Regions from separate parts of the Homo sapiens genome. Here region 2 is linked to region 1. The links come from fine-mapping of genetic effects on gene expression. Tissue or cell type: whole blood. Region 1 holds a variant in brackets; the other region holds the start of a gene. All regions are shown on one strand. Distances are from middle to middle.

Region 1 (7,911 bases):
AGGGAATGTGGGACCTTTTCATAGGACCCTCCTCCTCTTAGGCTGTGCTAGGACCTGGCTGACAAATACATAGCAGGCCTCTATCTTCTCTCCTCTCCTGGCCCACCTGAGGTGGGCTGAGGTGGGGAGAGGGTGAGGCTCAGTAATTGGTAACATCCCACACTTCTTCATAACCTACAACCAGTTGGTTGGATTTGACACTCAAACCATTTTGCCACCCCTTACCTAGAGGAACAGATTATATCTTGGAAGCTTATTGATAGATACAGAATTTGAGGCAAGGAAGTTTTTATATTTCTAAAAGCTGTTTTTATAAAACCCTGATGTATTGCCCTTCTCTATTCCAGAGTTATTTCTTACTTCCAAAGATCAGTTGGACATTGAACATTTTACCACTCTCCTTTTGCAGTATTCCTTATGAGTTACCCAAATTTGCTATCTTATAGTATACTTTTATTATAGTAATGGTATCACCGTTCCTCAGTCACAATTTCTTACCCTTTGTTTTTGTTTTTATTTTGAGACAGTGTCTCATTCTGTCTTCCATGCTGGAGTGCAGTGGCACGATCATAACTCACTGTGGCCTTGAACCCCCAGGCTCAAGAGATCCTCCCACTTCAGCCTCCTGAGTAGCTGGGACTACAGGGGCTGGCCACCACACTCAGCTAGTTTTTCTTTTGTATTTTCAGTTGAGGCGAGGTCTCGCTATGCACTAGCCTCAGCCTCCCGAAGTGCTTTGATTACAGACATGAGCTGCCCTCCTGGCCCCTTTATTTGTATGTTAAGCTGAGGCTTCTTTCTTTATAAATGCATCATAATCCCTCTGCTGAAATTTAGGAAGCATCCTACCTTAATCAGGAACATACACATTATTGCTTATGAAAGTTAGTTGTCTGGATAGATCACTAATGGCCTCCATTTTATGAGTTCTCATTAACCTATTGGTTTCACAGAGTGACATTCTCTGACTTCAAACTCTATCCAAAAGAATATCATATAGATTGTTTTAGGAAGCTGCAGACTCCAAATCTAAAAGCATATTTTAAGGCATGAGTTTATTTCATATACTTTCCAAGTGGTGAATTAATTATATGCCTTATTTTTAACATTTCGTTATTCAAACTTTATTGGGAGAAGAGGTTTTTGGATAAAAGGAGAAGGGAGGGGGAAAAAAAGCAATAGAAGTCATAATGGGTAAGGACCATCATCTGCAGGTAAATTATTGTTACTCGTCTTTGACAGGTGAAAGAACTAAGGAGCCTAAATGTTAAATCTGAAATACAAACTGCTCAATAAGGATTTTACTGAAATAGAGTTTTATTTTTTCTGTTTCTATACAAAACTAAAACATGACTGTTTGAATCCCATTAAAGATAAAGTCTCACTAATTCTTGGAATTGTGTGCATATGGCATCTGAATAGTTGTCATTATCTTCAATTATCTTGACCACACAGTGCTTGACCAAGTTTTCTTCATAGTAGCTTGAGGGTACTTGATGTGTTAAATAATGACCTGTAATCACAGTTATCTGTAATGGAGCTAGAAATAGAATCCACAAACTAGTTCTTATGTAGCATTTTCTGCTTTCTGTATGTTTTTGGGGCATTTATGTTTATGCATCTTATGGTCTAAAATTTTGTTTTCTTATAGAAGGAGCATATCCCAGCGCTCTTGGGAATGGCAACGGCTTATATGATCTTGAAACAGACTCCACGAGCCAGAAACCAGCTGAAGCGTATTGCGAAAATGAATTGGAATGCTATTGATGCTGAAGAGTTTGAGAAGAGTTGGCTGCTACTTGCTGATATTTACATTCAATCAGCAAAATATGACATGGCAGAAGACCTGTTAAAACGGTGCCTGCGTCATAATAGAGTAGGTGATTGAAGAGTAAAAAATAATTATTGACCTTTGTTGCATAAGCTTTCCATATAGATATTGTTGAGTGTTAGTCCATTTCCAAGGATTCCTGTGTGATTTTTGAAAATTAAATGTTTATTCTTACCACAATCAGGAAACAAGCATTAATAATAAGAAAAAAGCCATTTGTCCTTTAAAGTTTAAAAAAAAGAAAGATTTATGCAATTTCAAGTTTCAGCTGTAGTGATGCCCTACTTAACGGAAAGTGTTTTTGGAATGTCAAACGATTGCCTGTGATTATCCATCTCATCCCAGAACTAATGAAAATTGCAGAAGAACATTAATTGCGGACGTCTGTCCCTCCCATTAAGAAATACTCTTGATGAATTTACTGCAGCTGCATGTCATTTTCTCATTATTAGAATCTATTATGCATAATATATTTTGTGGGAGAAAATCTTTTCAGCTTTTAATTTCATTTGTTTAATAAAAATTCCTTATATTTAGGTATAAAATTGAATATTATAAAGTCCTTAGAATTTAAGGCTTTTTACTAACATTTTGATGTTTAATTACAAAAGATGTCATTATAACAGTTCTTTAAAGTTAAGATTTATTTTTTTGTTGAGAAATAATTGCACACAACTTAGAAATGATATTTATCTTCATATATTCATATCAATTACTTCAAAATCTTAATCACAGTAAATCTGTTTTATTCTCATTGAGCGAATTAGATTACAAATGGACCGTTTATTTTTTAAAGAGGAATTGTGATTATCTAGTACTATTAAGATACTTTCCTAGGAACTTAAGAACCTGAAAGATCCAAGCATTTGTCAATTTATGCACTATTCTAGACGATTAGCTACATAAATTTTATGTTAAATTGGCTTTGAAAAGCCGAATGCTCATTAATAGGCTTTGAAAATCTAAACTGCTGAATAGTTTACCCTTCTATATCTAGTCTAGGATTAACCAAGATTGCATGAGAATTTCAGTGCACATACAATTTCAGTTTGCCAGAACGCTGATAACAATACATTGCATGGTTGAACATGATGGCTGCTTTAGAAGCTTCATTCAGCCCTGCTGGTTGAATATGTTGATATTGAAAGCATGATATTTAAGAACTAAAGCTTAGGAAACTTGAATTACATAATTTAAAAAATGGAAGTCATCCATATCTGGGGCAGGAAATGTACAAGACGACACTAGACTGTCTTGCCATACCAGATGATGAAGGAAGCTATCCATGATGATTAGAGTTTGTGTGAAAGATCTAGGGGCCAACTTAAAGACACCTCTAGTAGCCGAAGTTGGGATGCTTTAAGTATTGATAAGAATGATAACTGCAATATATTGAAATACATAAAATCTGTTTAAATCCATGACTTCTCGAAGATCCAAAATAGAAAAAACAAAACAAACAAAAAACCTAATTGGTAACCACTGCAGTATGCTAGTGAACTGACTGCTATTTCTAAAGCTTGCAAATAAATATCCTGCCTTTTCTGTACAGAATTGGTTAACCAAATAGTCAATGAGACGTTTCTCATCATAGACATTTTCCAGCTAATTAATGAAGAAAGACTGATAGGCTATCCCCATTTTTCAACCCTGATAAATTTATATATGGATGTAACATCACAAAAAGAGGGAGAATCAGACATTCTGTGCCTCCCAACAGAAGAACAGACATCTATGGCAGGGCTAGGGTTGGGATGAGACAAGTGAAACACTTAGTAATCAAGATAAATAATAATTTAATGCAGCTGTGCTGAGCTTTATTGGAGCCTGAATCAAAAGGGAATATGTGCATTCCTATATTCATATTTTTATGTTTTTTAAAAAATGGGTAATTGGTAATGGTTTTAATGAAAATATTACTGGTGAGATTTCTTCCATTAAAGTGAGAAAAGTAAAATGATAAGAAATTAAGTTTAGGTATAAATAAAATGTTCAGTCTTAAATGTAGTGATTTTTAATATATACTTTCAGATTTTTCAATATTTTTAAACTCATATTCTGGAAAAAAATTACAATTAAGAAATATACAAAAACATGCATCCATGTTTTTATGCCTCAGTGTGGCTTATCATAGCACTGATGTTTGAAGTAGATTCACCTCTCTCCTCCAGAATCAAAATTGAATCCAAACCTCTACATCTAATTACAACTTCCAGAAAACGTCAGTGACATAGGAATATATTATATAAACACCACAAGGATGCAGTCAATTAACCTGCGTTGTGAGAAACTCGGGGATAAATATTCTTGTTTCTATTACATTTAATTTCAAGAAAAGAGACACAGAGAGACAGACAGACATACCAGAAGGGAAACCTCTGGATCAAGAGACTAGATCAAAACATTGACCAGTTACAATGTTTGGTCCTTATTTCAGTCCTCAATCTAACAAAAACAAATTATATTGAGACAATTAAAATTTAGACAGTACTGGATATTTGGTGCTATTAAGGAGTCATTAACATTTTAGGTGTGATAAAATTGTGGTTCTGTTTAAATAACGTCTTTTTCTTTTACAGATGCACACTAACACATTTAGACTTAGTTGATACAATATCTGAGGATTTTTTCTGGTAATACAGAAGGGTAGGTTTGTGAGATAGAGGTGAAACAGTATTAGTCAAAAAATAATTATTGAAGATAAGGGTTCATGGAGTTCATTATGCTCTTATCTCTGTATTTGTATGTGTTTAAATCACTCATAATAGTGTACCTGTGCTTGTGTAAAACACAAGTGCCCTATTGTGTATTTCTGATTCTGTAAAGAAAATCCTGATTCTGCAGATATGTGATGGAGACTTGCCATCAGAATCATTTATTAAGTTCAGTAAAAAATTTGATTGCCTAGCCAAGGTTGAAAACCATTGTTTGATTTGTCATTTAAATGGGTTGATATGATTGACCTCT[A/G]TAGTCACAAACATCCCATAAAATCTTAGTGATATCAAGTTTAATCTATTGATGTCTCCCATTTTTCTTCAGTCTTGCTGCAAAGCTTATGAATATATGGGATACATTATGGAAAAAGAGCAAGCATATACAGATGCTGCCTTGAACTATGAGATGGCATGGAAATATAGCAATCGGACAAATCCGGCAGTAGGTGAGTTTGGCAATCACCTAGATTTTTCACAGAAAAATTATGTTGTATTTATTAATTTTCATTTAAATGCATTTGATTTTTTTCAAAACAAAATAAACATTGAGTCAATTTTCATTGTCAACCTTTCTGAAAGGAGAATAAATTTTATATTCATAATATATTATTAGCTACTAATAGTTCAGTTTCCTGAGTTCCAAACTTGTCCTCAGTCACTTAGTGTACATCTAGTCTAATTCTGCCCCCTTCTCTTCCTTCTAAAAGAAGGTGCTATTTTGAAATTGGGAATGCCATGGAAAAAGATGTTTCCATTGCCAAGTAAGTTAGGAAAATATTGCATTAAATTGAATTACACAGGTTTCTTTACTTCTCAAAGCCTTTAAACACTAACGTATATTGCGATGGATATCACAGAGGGGCCATGTTTCCCACAATTATTTGACCATGGGACATTTTTTTTTTCTCCTGAGCATCTAGAAACATCATCCAGTCCCAGGCTGGATGTTGCAGGCTGTTAGTTTGGGTAATGCTAGTCTACAGTGTCCCTAACAGAGGTGGCATCAGAATATATGTCATGACCAACCTCTCTCCTCATACGAGGGAGCTCATCCTCATGTTTGTGTACTCTTTCTTTGTATTGGGTTGAAATATGCCTCCTTGAAACTGCCCAAGTCTGTTTTCCGGAGCAACTTACAGAATGCCTCCCTCTTACAGATCATGACCCTTTAAATTGCAATCTTCAGTCCTGTGTCCTAGGACTTGTCTTCAAGCCATCTGCAGTTACTTGTCCATTCTTCCTAAGATTGGATTCCGAGTCTCTCATCTTCCTTGTTGCTGTCTCCTGGAAGCTCTAAAATAGTGTTTCCCAAACTGTGCTTTGGAACAGTTGGGGAGATTTTAATAATTATTTTTTTTTTAATTAAAAAGAATGAAGTGTGAAGGTGGTAGATGCCATGGCCATGTAAGTTTGGAAAGTGCTGTTTTATTTTTCCATGCCCCTCTGACCTGTTGTACCATAAATGAACAACCTCTCAAATATGATTTGGCTTCTTATAAGTATAATTAAGCTATTTTTTTCTTTTGATTAGGCAATTTGTAGTTGTTAATTCAGCCTAAGATGGCATCAGTCTTTTCAGCAGCCATGTCACCGTGTGAATTCGATTTTGATTTGCAGTCAAATGAGTCAACCTCATACTAACTGCTGTTAGCTCAGGTCTTCCCTCATCTGTTAGTTTCCTGGAGTCTGTTCTCATACTATACTAGACTTGTGCAAAGCACAAAAACTAATGATTTTTATAGTATTTTTTATTCTAAGGTGTGATATATCTTTCAGAATAAAGTCATCTGGTAAAATGAAAAGTCCTTAAATATCCTTAAAATATTAATTTTGACACTTTATTCCATAGAAGGAATGCACATAGAAGTTAAATTATTTATATATTCCATTCCTTGGAAGACCTCAGCAAATAAAGAGATTCCAAATGACTAGTTCTTTCATTGTGTCATCATTGTATTTTATAGATTATTTTATCAGTTCCTCTAGCTTTGCTTTGGTAATCATTTCTTTCTAAGGCTCTCCATTAATTCCTCAATTTCATCCTTAAGATTGTCATTGCATCTAACACCCTCAATGTGCCTGGCCAAATAAACAATGTATTTCACTTTTTCAGTTGTCAGAAAACCCTTAAAATCATGCTCATGGCCAGGCGCAGTGGCTCACACCTGTAATCCCAACACTTTGGGAGGCCGAGGTGGGCAAATCACCTGAGGTCAGGAGTTCGAAACTAGCCTGGCCAACATGGTGAAACTCCGTCTCTACTAAAAATACAAAAATTAGCCGGGCATGGTGGCGGGCGCCTGTAATCCCAGCAACTCAGGAGGCTGAGGCAGGAGAATTGCTTGAACCCGAGAGGTGGAGGTTGCAGTGAGCCGAGATCACACCACTGCACTGCAGCCTGGTTGACGGAGTGAGACTCTGTCTCAAAAAAAAAAAAAAAAAAATCGTGCTCATGCTCTTTCCATAGAATTCAGGGTTGAATATTGTCACTATAAGAGGCACCAGGATGAATGATGAATGGATAATTTGCTTGACTGCAGTAATCATTTATAAATAAATATATATACACACACACACATATATCTACACACCCACATCTACACACCGACATCATTTTGTATATCTTAAATATATACGAGGAAAAAAAGAAACACACTAGGAACAACTGAGATCCAATGAGAGAAGAAACTACTCATGTTTCACCCTTCATACCTATTCTCAGGTTATAGGACAGTCATTAGACTGTGTAGAATGTTTGCATTCTCTCGCTGTCTCTCCTGATTGCATATAGTTGAGTTCTAATAAGTTTGGCAGGTGTAGTGCAGCTGCAGTGCACATTTTCTTTCCCCTTCTTAGGTCTTTATTTCCTCTGAAATTTTTGTACCAGGTCATGTATCAAGTTTCTTCCAGTGTTAAAATTCTGTGATTATAATATAGTGAATGCTTACATTAAAAAATGCTAATATTTTGTGGTATTCTAAGGTTTTAAAAACCATTTCACAAGTATTTTATATGATTTTTAAAATTATACTAAGAGTTAGAGGGAGGAGTTGTTATTCCTGTTTTAGCGATGAGGAAACCTGAAAATGACAGCTCAAGCCACTTGCGTAAGATCCCAAAGCTAGTCAAGAAACCACAAACCAAAACTGAAATCTTGACTAGTTCCCATGTAAGTATGTTTGGCATGACATCTTAAAAATTGCTTTACTTTTTGAATGTCACAAACCCTTTTAGTTCATTTTAGAATTTGTTGGTAATGACATTAAGTTTACCTCTCTGAAACTTCTTATTTTTGTCTAAAATCTGAGATGTGAGATTCTGCCATAGGCCCTGCCCATGTGTGCCTGTGTGCATGTGTGTGTGTGT
Region 2 (7,911 bases), 72 kb before region 1:
GTGCTTGAGGAGCCCTTCAGCCCGCCGCTGCACTGTGGGAGCCTGTCTCTGGGCTGGCCAAGGCCGGAGCCGGCTCCCTCTGCTTGCGGGGAGGTGTGGAGGGAGAGGCGCGGGCGGGAACCGCGGCTGCGGTTGGCGCTGGCGGGCCCGCGCGAGTTCCAGGTGGGCGCGGGCTCCGCCCGCCCCGCACTTGGAGCGGCGGGTCGGCACCGCTGGCCCGAGGCAGTGAGGGGCTTAGCACCCGAGCCAGCAGCTGCGGAGAGTGCACCGGGTCCCCCAGCACTGCCAGCCTGCCCCTGCGGCGCTCGAATTCTCACGGGGCCTCAGCCGCCTCCCGCGCGGCAGGGCTCGGGACCTGCAGCCCGTCATGCCATGCGCGAGCCCTCCCCTCTCCCGGTGGACTCGTGCCCAGCCCGAGCCTCCTCGAAGGGCGCCGCCCCCTGCTCCACGGCGCCCGGTCCCATCCACTGCCCAAAGGCTGAGGAGTGCGGGCGCGTGGCGCGGGACTGGTGGGCAGCTCCGCTGCAGTCTCGGCGGGCCGGGAACCGCTAGGTGAAGCCAGCTGGGCTCCTGAGTCAGGTGGGGACTTGGAGAACTTTTATGTCTAGCTAAAGGTTTGTAAATGCACCAGTCAGCACTCTGTGTCTAGCTGAAGGTTTGTAAACGCACCAGTCAGCACCCTGTGTCTTGCTCAAGGTTTGTAAAGGTACCAATCAGTGCTCTGTGTCTAGCTAATCTGGTGGGGACTTGAAGAACTTTTGTGTCTAGCTAAAGGATTGTAAATTTACCAGTCAGCACTCTGTGTCTAGCTCAAGGTTTGTAAACACACCAATCAGCATCCTGTCAAAACGGACCAATCAGCTCTCTGTAAAACAGCCCAATTAGCTCTCTGTAAAGCAGACCAATCAGTAGGATGTGGGTGGGGCCGGATAAGGGAATAAATGCAGGCCACCTGAGCTAGCAGGGGCACTCTACTGGGGTCCTCTTCCACTCTGTGGAAGGTTTGTTCTTTTGCTGTTTGCAATAAATCTTGTTGCTGCTCACTCTTTGGGTCTGCGTGCGTTTATGAACTGTAACACTCACCGCGAGGGTCCGCGGCTTTATTCTTGAAGTCAGCAAGACCAAGAACCCACCAATTCCGGACACATTAAGGTCTGAACGAAAATGACGTATTTCTGGAGACGAAGATGTTAACTGCTACATTATATTATCTAGCTTTATAGTGCTCATCATCTGGTAGAGAACATTAAACAAAAATGCACTATAACTAGTAATACAAGGACTATGCAAGTGTAATAAGTCTTATAGAGCAGGGGTCCCCAATCTGAGGACTGCAAATCAGTGCTACACAGCAGGATGGGGTATACAGCAGGACGGGGTACACAGCAGGAGGTGAGCTGCGGGGCAGGAAAGGGAGCGTTACCCCAAGCTCCACCTCCTTGTCAGATCAGCGAGGCATTAGATTCTCATACGAATGCAAACCCCATTATAAACTGTGCATGTGAAGGATCTAGGCTGTATGCTCCTTAGATAAGAATCTGATGATCTGAGATGGAATAGTTTCAACCCGAAACCATCTCCCCTACCCCTGTCCATGGAAAATTTATCTTCTGTGAATTGTCTTCCACCAAACTGGTCCCTGGTGCCAAAATGATTGGGGACCACTGCTATAGAGCACTACGTGTTTAATGGAAACTATTGGTTATACAATGCCTATTATGTGTCAGGAAGTTTTAATATGTCTGTAAGGCATTTAGTTTCTTTAGTAAATAAGGAAAATGAGGCTTAGGGAAATTACTTCCCCAAGTCACAAAAGTAGCTAGCGTAATAGGAGCTCCACCTCAGATGCAGAAGAGGGTATTCTTGCCACTACACTGTGATATTTTTATACCCATCCAGTTATGGTGATCCTTAAAGACTTCATGAAATTTGAAATGAACTCAGAAGAAGGAGATTTTCTCAGGTGAAGAAAGAGCTCAAAACAAAGTAGGGGAAAGCATTACCAGAAGAAGGAATATTTGTCCCACTGAGCGGAATAAAGGCTCCTTGAAGGGGAGGTAGAAGATAAGGCTTGAAAAGACGATGAGGTGAAGGGTCATGGATATCAGACTCAAAAGTTTGTAGCTAGTAAAAGTGAGCCGATAAAAATGTTACTGCTAAGGAACACATCGATTTTTCAGGAAAGACAAGAGTTTTTCCTGGCCTGAGATCCAAAATAAATTTCTTACATGAGATCTAGTAAGGGCACAGGGCACACCAAGTCACCGTGAGTGTCAAAGCAAATCTCAGAGTACTTTTAATCCAACAAACATTTATGAAACATCAGGCTTGGTGTTTTGTGCTAAATAATTCAACCTTAGAACAGAATTCAGTGAAGAGAATACGAGGCTAAATTAATATGACTTTCAAGATCTCCAAAAGGTAGGTTGATCATCTGTTCTGTTAACCATGATCCTGAGATATTTCCTTACAGATGAACTTTTCTCTTATAACCAAAGGTTTACAGTTCAAGATTATACACTTCATTGAGCACCCTGGTCCTGTGGTATTCTTTGCTGTATACCAAGTGCGGATTAATCCGCAGCTTTGAAAATCAAAGAGATATCACCAGTTGTTCATCACCACAGACATTTAGCTGGACTATAAATATTGGAAAGAAAAAAAAGTTGCTCGTGAAAATACGTGGTGAATTCCTTTAAAGAGAAACCGGTGAGAAATATTGCTTCACCTTAAAGCCTAGGATGGTAGCTACCGTTTTTCTCAAGACTGTCCTTACATAACCTATTGGCATGGGGAAAAAGTCAATGTTTATAAACTCCTTAAGAAACTTAAAATCTGGAAAAGGCAACTACGTATCATGTCAACTAAAGTAAGATAATTAACACTAGGATCAAAATTTGGAATCCACGTGAAAGATTCTGCAAAGATCACTTAAATCTCAGACCTTATGCACTATTTTAAATATTTATTTAAGCAGAAATAGAAAATCTTAGTCTATTATATTTCCATTTAATTTCCTGGACTTAAGAAATCTATGTGTGACTGATTGAGTTGCCTAATGGGGTGCAAACATAAAAATTTGCATTGGGATTCATTTTATTCTCAGTTTAAAATCAGTAGTATCATTGAAAACAAGACACTAATTTTCTGGAAGTTTAATTTATTTGTCCCTCTTATTATCGGGGCTGGTAAAAAAGGGCTAATTGAACACACATTCTAACAAAGATTGCAGCAACGCCTGCAAAGACGGGCCCAAGCGCACCGTATTTCTGTTAAGAACGTGTGATTTTTTTTTTCTGCGCCACCTTGTGGCCGTAAAACAACTTGCCCACGTGAAAGTTGACCGCTTTTTCCCGCGCCGGCAGAGCCTTGCTGAGAGCCGCACTGCGGGAATCCGCCTCCAGACAAACGTGCAGAAAATGGTGTCTTCCTTTACAACCAGTGACAGGAAACAGACTTCCCCTTCTTCATACTCCGTTTCCTTTATTCCTGAATTCCATTTCCTCGGCCCGCCCACCCACTGTCCTCAGACAGCCGTTTCCCAGTGTGACCTCCTTTTCCAGCTGCACTCTCCGGCGGAGGCCCTTTTCCCAGCCCGGACCCTCCCGGGCGGCCCTCGCAGCCCTCACCTCCGGGTCCCCGCCGCCCCTGCTCCATTACAGCACGATCCCCGCCACACAGGCCCGCCTCTCCCTCCGACAGCCAATCGCGGCGCGACCCCGCCCCTCCCGCTGGGGCCCGGGGCGCTAGAGCGCTCCGGGAGGCTAGGGGAGCTGAATTCTGCGTCTTCCTTTAGGCTGCGGCGAGACAATCCCCAGAGCCCCGCGGCCCGGCCTCGGGGCAGCCATGGACTCGCAGGAATTGAAGGTGAGCGGGTGAGCGGGTGAGCGGGTGAGCGGGCGGGCGGGCGGAGTTCCTTTGCGGCCTTTTGGCCCGGGGGCGCGGAGGGAGCTCGGGTGGCTTCGCTAGGCCGCTGTTTCCCTGCGGTGCCCCGGCTGCTCGGGTTGCGGGGTGGGCCTGCAGCCTCTGCTCACGGCCGGTCTCCGCGGGCCCTGCTGGGGAAGCCCAGGTCTGGGCAGCCCGCCCGCTCGGTGTTTCTGAATTGCTGGTCCCCATGCTGTTGGTTGTGTTTACTTTTGTATCATGTTTACTAGGAAAGCTTGGGTTACCTATGACACTGCGCCTCCGGGTGCGATTTTTAAGGACTTAAGGCAAACTAGTGTCAGCTCCCACACTGGACAGTAAAAAGAGCGCAGAAAGATTATATGAAACCCATTAAAGACGTAAGACTTAAAAGTGGAGGGGTCGTTATTTTAGGGTGATGGTCTTCTCTGTTTATCACTGACTCATTCATTCAGCAAATATTAATGACGGTCAACTTAAGAAAGGCTGATATAAAACAGTTAAAGACATGAGGCTTGAAAATAAAATAACTTTTCGGATGTTGGTCTTCTCTATTCATTTGTTCACTGAATCACTCGTTCAGCAAATATTTATGAAGGGTTACTGTATGTCCATTAGAAGCTGGAGATAGCAGTGAGCAAAACTGAACAGTTTCTGCCTTCTCAGATTTTACAGGCTAATTAATGCTGGGGAAAAACCCTAATTCAGTTGACTCAACAAATATTTACTGAATGCCTCCTATGTGTCTAGCACTGTTCTAAGCACTGAAATAATAAAACCAAGAAAAACTCTTCCAATCTTGGAGCTTACATTTGAGTAGGAGGAGTCAGACAACAAGTAGGTAAATGAAATGTGTATCCTGTGAGATGGTGATAAGTGGATGGAGGACAATTTGGCGATGTAGGAGGTTAGGGAATGCTGAAATGTCTTGTTTTTCTGCCTGAAGTTTTACATTATCCTCTGTTCTAGCTATCCCCCTATATCCTTACATTTTTTTATTCCCTTAAATGTATTATTTGCACTGCCACCCAAATGAACATTTTAATAAAAACACTTTAATGTAAAATGTAAAAATGGGCCTCCTCATTACTTAGACTTGAGGTTCAAGTCCAAGTACTTAATATGAGGCTTTTCACCCCACCTTCGTCTCCAACCTCATCATCCAATACTCTCTGTCTCACTTAAGCCTCCAGAGCAGAGAATAGCAAACTTTCTCAACAAAGGGCCAGATAGTACACATTTTAGACTTTATGGACCGTATGGTCTATCACATCTAATTGGCTTGTTCAAAACAGCCATAGACAATACTTAAATGAGCATGGCTGTGTTTCAATAAAACTTTATTTATGAACACTGAAATTTGACTTTCATGTAATTTTCATGTTATGAAATATTTCTTTTTTTTCCTTGACAGCTGGAAAATATAAAAACCATTCTTAGTTCACTGGCTGTACAGCCAGCCAGCCAGATATGGCCCACAGAGTGTGGTTTGCCAAACCCTGCTCTAGAGTATGGAGTGGCTTTTAGTCATCTTCATCACCACTGCCATCCCAATGTACCATTGATGACTTGTTATCTGTGTTGTTGCAGTTCCTCTTCCTAACTCCTGTACCTTCCTCAAGAATCATGAAAAGGAAATAGGAAGAGCGTGTACGTGTGTGGAGGGAGAATGAGGGGTTTGCAATTCAAGAGTCAGCTCTGAAATCCTCCCCAATAATCTTTCCCTTGATTTTAGTCATCCATCCTCCCCTCACACCACATTCAGTTTTCAATGCTGTCAAAATGTTGCTATCCCACATTCCCAAAGGAGTTTATAAGCTCTTTTCTTACATTTACTACATTATATTTCAGTTAGTCTTCAGATTACAGTCTCATCTGAAAAATGTAGGTTTTCCGGGGGGACAGGAACCATGTCTTACTCATTTTTCTATTCATAGTAGCTAGCCCAGTGCCTGGGTACTAGTAGGCAGTCAGTAAATGTTTTGGATTGAATAACCTAACCTGAACCAAGGCAGTAGCATTAGGTATGTTTAGTGGGAGGTAGACTGGAGAAATAGAAGAACCTACTAAGTGGTTAGACTTAGAGAGACTGGGCAAATAGGAAGGGAGGATTCATGAGTAGCAGGGTAGCAGGTGGAAAATGGAAATATGAATCTGGAACATAGACAAGAGGTCTTGGCGCAGGACACATTTTTTTTTTATTCCATTAACATATGGGATGCAGAGGAACTTATTTTTTTCAGAATAGAACTCTTATACTATGATATCTTAATTAATTCTCACAGTGACCTGTACATTTGCATTACTAACAGCATTTTATAAATGAGCAGACTGAGGCGTTGTAAGAAGGACCAGAGATTCTTTTTGCCTTTAAATTCGCGTCCTTTTTATGGTGCTATGCCACTGCCTTTCAGGAGGATTATAGATGCTTAGTGATAGTGTGCAGAAGTCAAGTAAGGTATTAAACGTGTCCTTAGTTGTGGCAAAGTAAGAAGTCATTCTGCAACTTTAGGGAATGGAGCATTGGAGGAAAACTGTGTTTCACTGAAATGTGTTGTGGGGGTCTGGAGATGGGGTATGGAGCACACTTTTAAGAAACATGGCTAAAAAGGAGGTTAGGGAGCAGTGATCACAAGGAGGGAGGCAGAGTAAAATTACAGAGAACAGTCGCCTAACTGATCTAGAGAAGTACATGGACTATAGCCCTCCAGAAGCAAGAGACTATATAAAACAGAGCTGTCGGACGGGCGTGGTGGCTCACGCCTGTAATCTCAGCACTTTGGGAGGCCCAGGCGGGTGGATCACTTGAAGTCAAGAGTTCAAGACCAGCCTGGCCAACATGGGGAGCCCCATCTCTACTTAAAAATACAAAAATTAGCCAGGTGCGGTGGGGTGTGCCTATAGTCCCAGATCAGGAGGCTGAGGCAGGAGAATCGCTTAAACCTAGGGGGCAGAGATTGCAGTGAGCAGAGATTGCGCCACTGCACTCCAGCCTGAGTGACAGAATCTCCAAAACAAAACAAAACAAACAAACCAGAGCTGTCTAGATACCCTTAGATTTCAATCCTGTCACTTAGTCACCTGTATTTCTCACTGCTACTGAACAAGCTGTAGAGTCCAGGTAGGTAGGTATGGGGTGGCCCAAACTGCTTTCTGGTGAATCAGGTGTATCCTAGTGATGGTGGGAAAGTGTGGTTTCTGTCTTTGATGAGGTTAGCAACCAAGCCTTAGACATAATCGTAGGAAAAATGGTAGACAGCACAGGCCCATTTTTATTCAGAAGTTAGTAGGTCCTGATAGTAGTTTTGTCTTGTATATGGAAATAATATAACTTTGGAAAAAGCTTAAAGACAACGATTTTCATTGAAAAATAGTTTATTTATTCTTAACTGACAATTTATTTGTCGCAGAACTCAAAGCCGAGTAAGATAACATTTGATGATATGTTGAAGAATTAAATTTGTCATTACTTTGTAATGCTGTAATAAAATACTGGATATTTTAAAAAGAAGATTTTTTTTTTTAAAGAAACCTATGGTCTGGCAATGGAAGCCTCTTGTCTTTTTTTTTTTTTTTTTAGTTCCTGTTTATTGTCTGCCTTTCTGTTTTCTAAAACGTTCAAGAAAATGTGGGCAAAGGAAAAAAGGTGAAAGCAGCCTCATTTCGGTGCTGTTAACAAAAACTTAGGAAAAATAATTTAAATTATTAGAAAACATTGAATTATTTCAGTAATTTTATGATCATTCAGTTCTGCAATCCTTAGCATTGAGTTCTAGCCATTAATAGTATTTTAAGAAACTTGGAAGAAAAAAGTCACATTGCCTGAATTTTACATTATTCTAGATGTTAGATTATTATCTGCTTCTTAGAGTATTTCAGAGCACCAGAATTCCTTTATAACATTTTTTCATTATTTCCATTTAGACTTTGATTAATTACTATTGTCAAGAGAGATATTTCCATCATGTATTACTGGTTGCCAGTGAAGGAATTAAGAGGTATGGAAGT

Evidence for each region. PIP is the estimated chance that this variant, and not a neighbour inherited with it, causes the effect.
Region 2: TTC21B starts here. The variant in region 1 is fine-mapped to the expression of TTC21B in whole blood (TOPMed, PIP 0.97).

What each region holds. Positions count from the first base shown.
Region 1 is chr2:165,877,759-165,885,669 of GRCh38, reverse strand. TTC21B (tetratricopeptide repeat domain 21B) reads left to right here. Exons shown (of 29, transcript NM_024753.5): 26 at 1,652-1,876; 27 at 4,871-4,991. Among named protein-coding and RNA genes, the nearest start is that of TTC21B-AS1, 52 kb to the left of the region's middle. The variant A/G (reference allele first, on the strand shown) is at 4,799.
Region 2 is chr2:165,949,641-165,957,551 of GRCh38, reverse strand. It overlaps TTC21B (tetratricopeptide repeat domain 21B), which reads left to right and starts at 3,776. Exons shown (of 29, transcript NM_024753.5): 1 at 3,776-3,867; 2 at 7,828-7,911. The coding sequence starts at 3,847. LOC102724058 (a long non-coding RNA gene) reads right to left here and starts at 134. Exons shown (of 4, transcript NR_110598.1): 1 at 1-134. RefSeq lists an enhancer at 3,012-3,761 and a silencer at 3,526-3,925.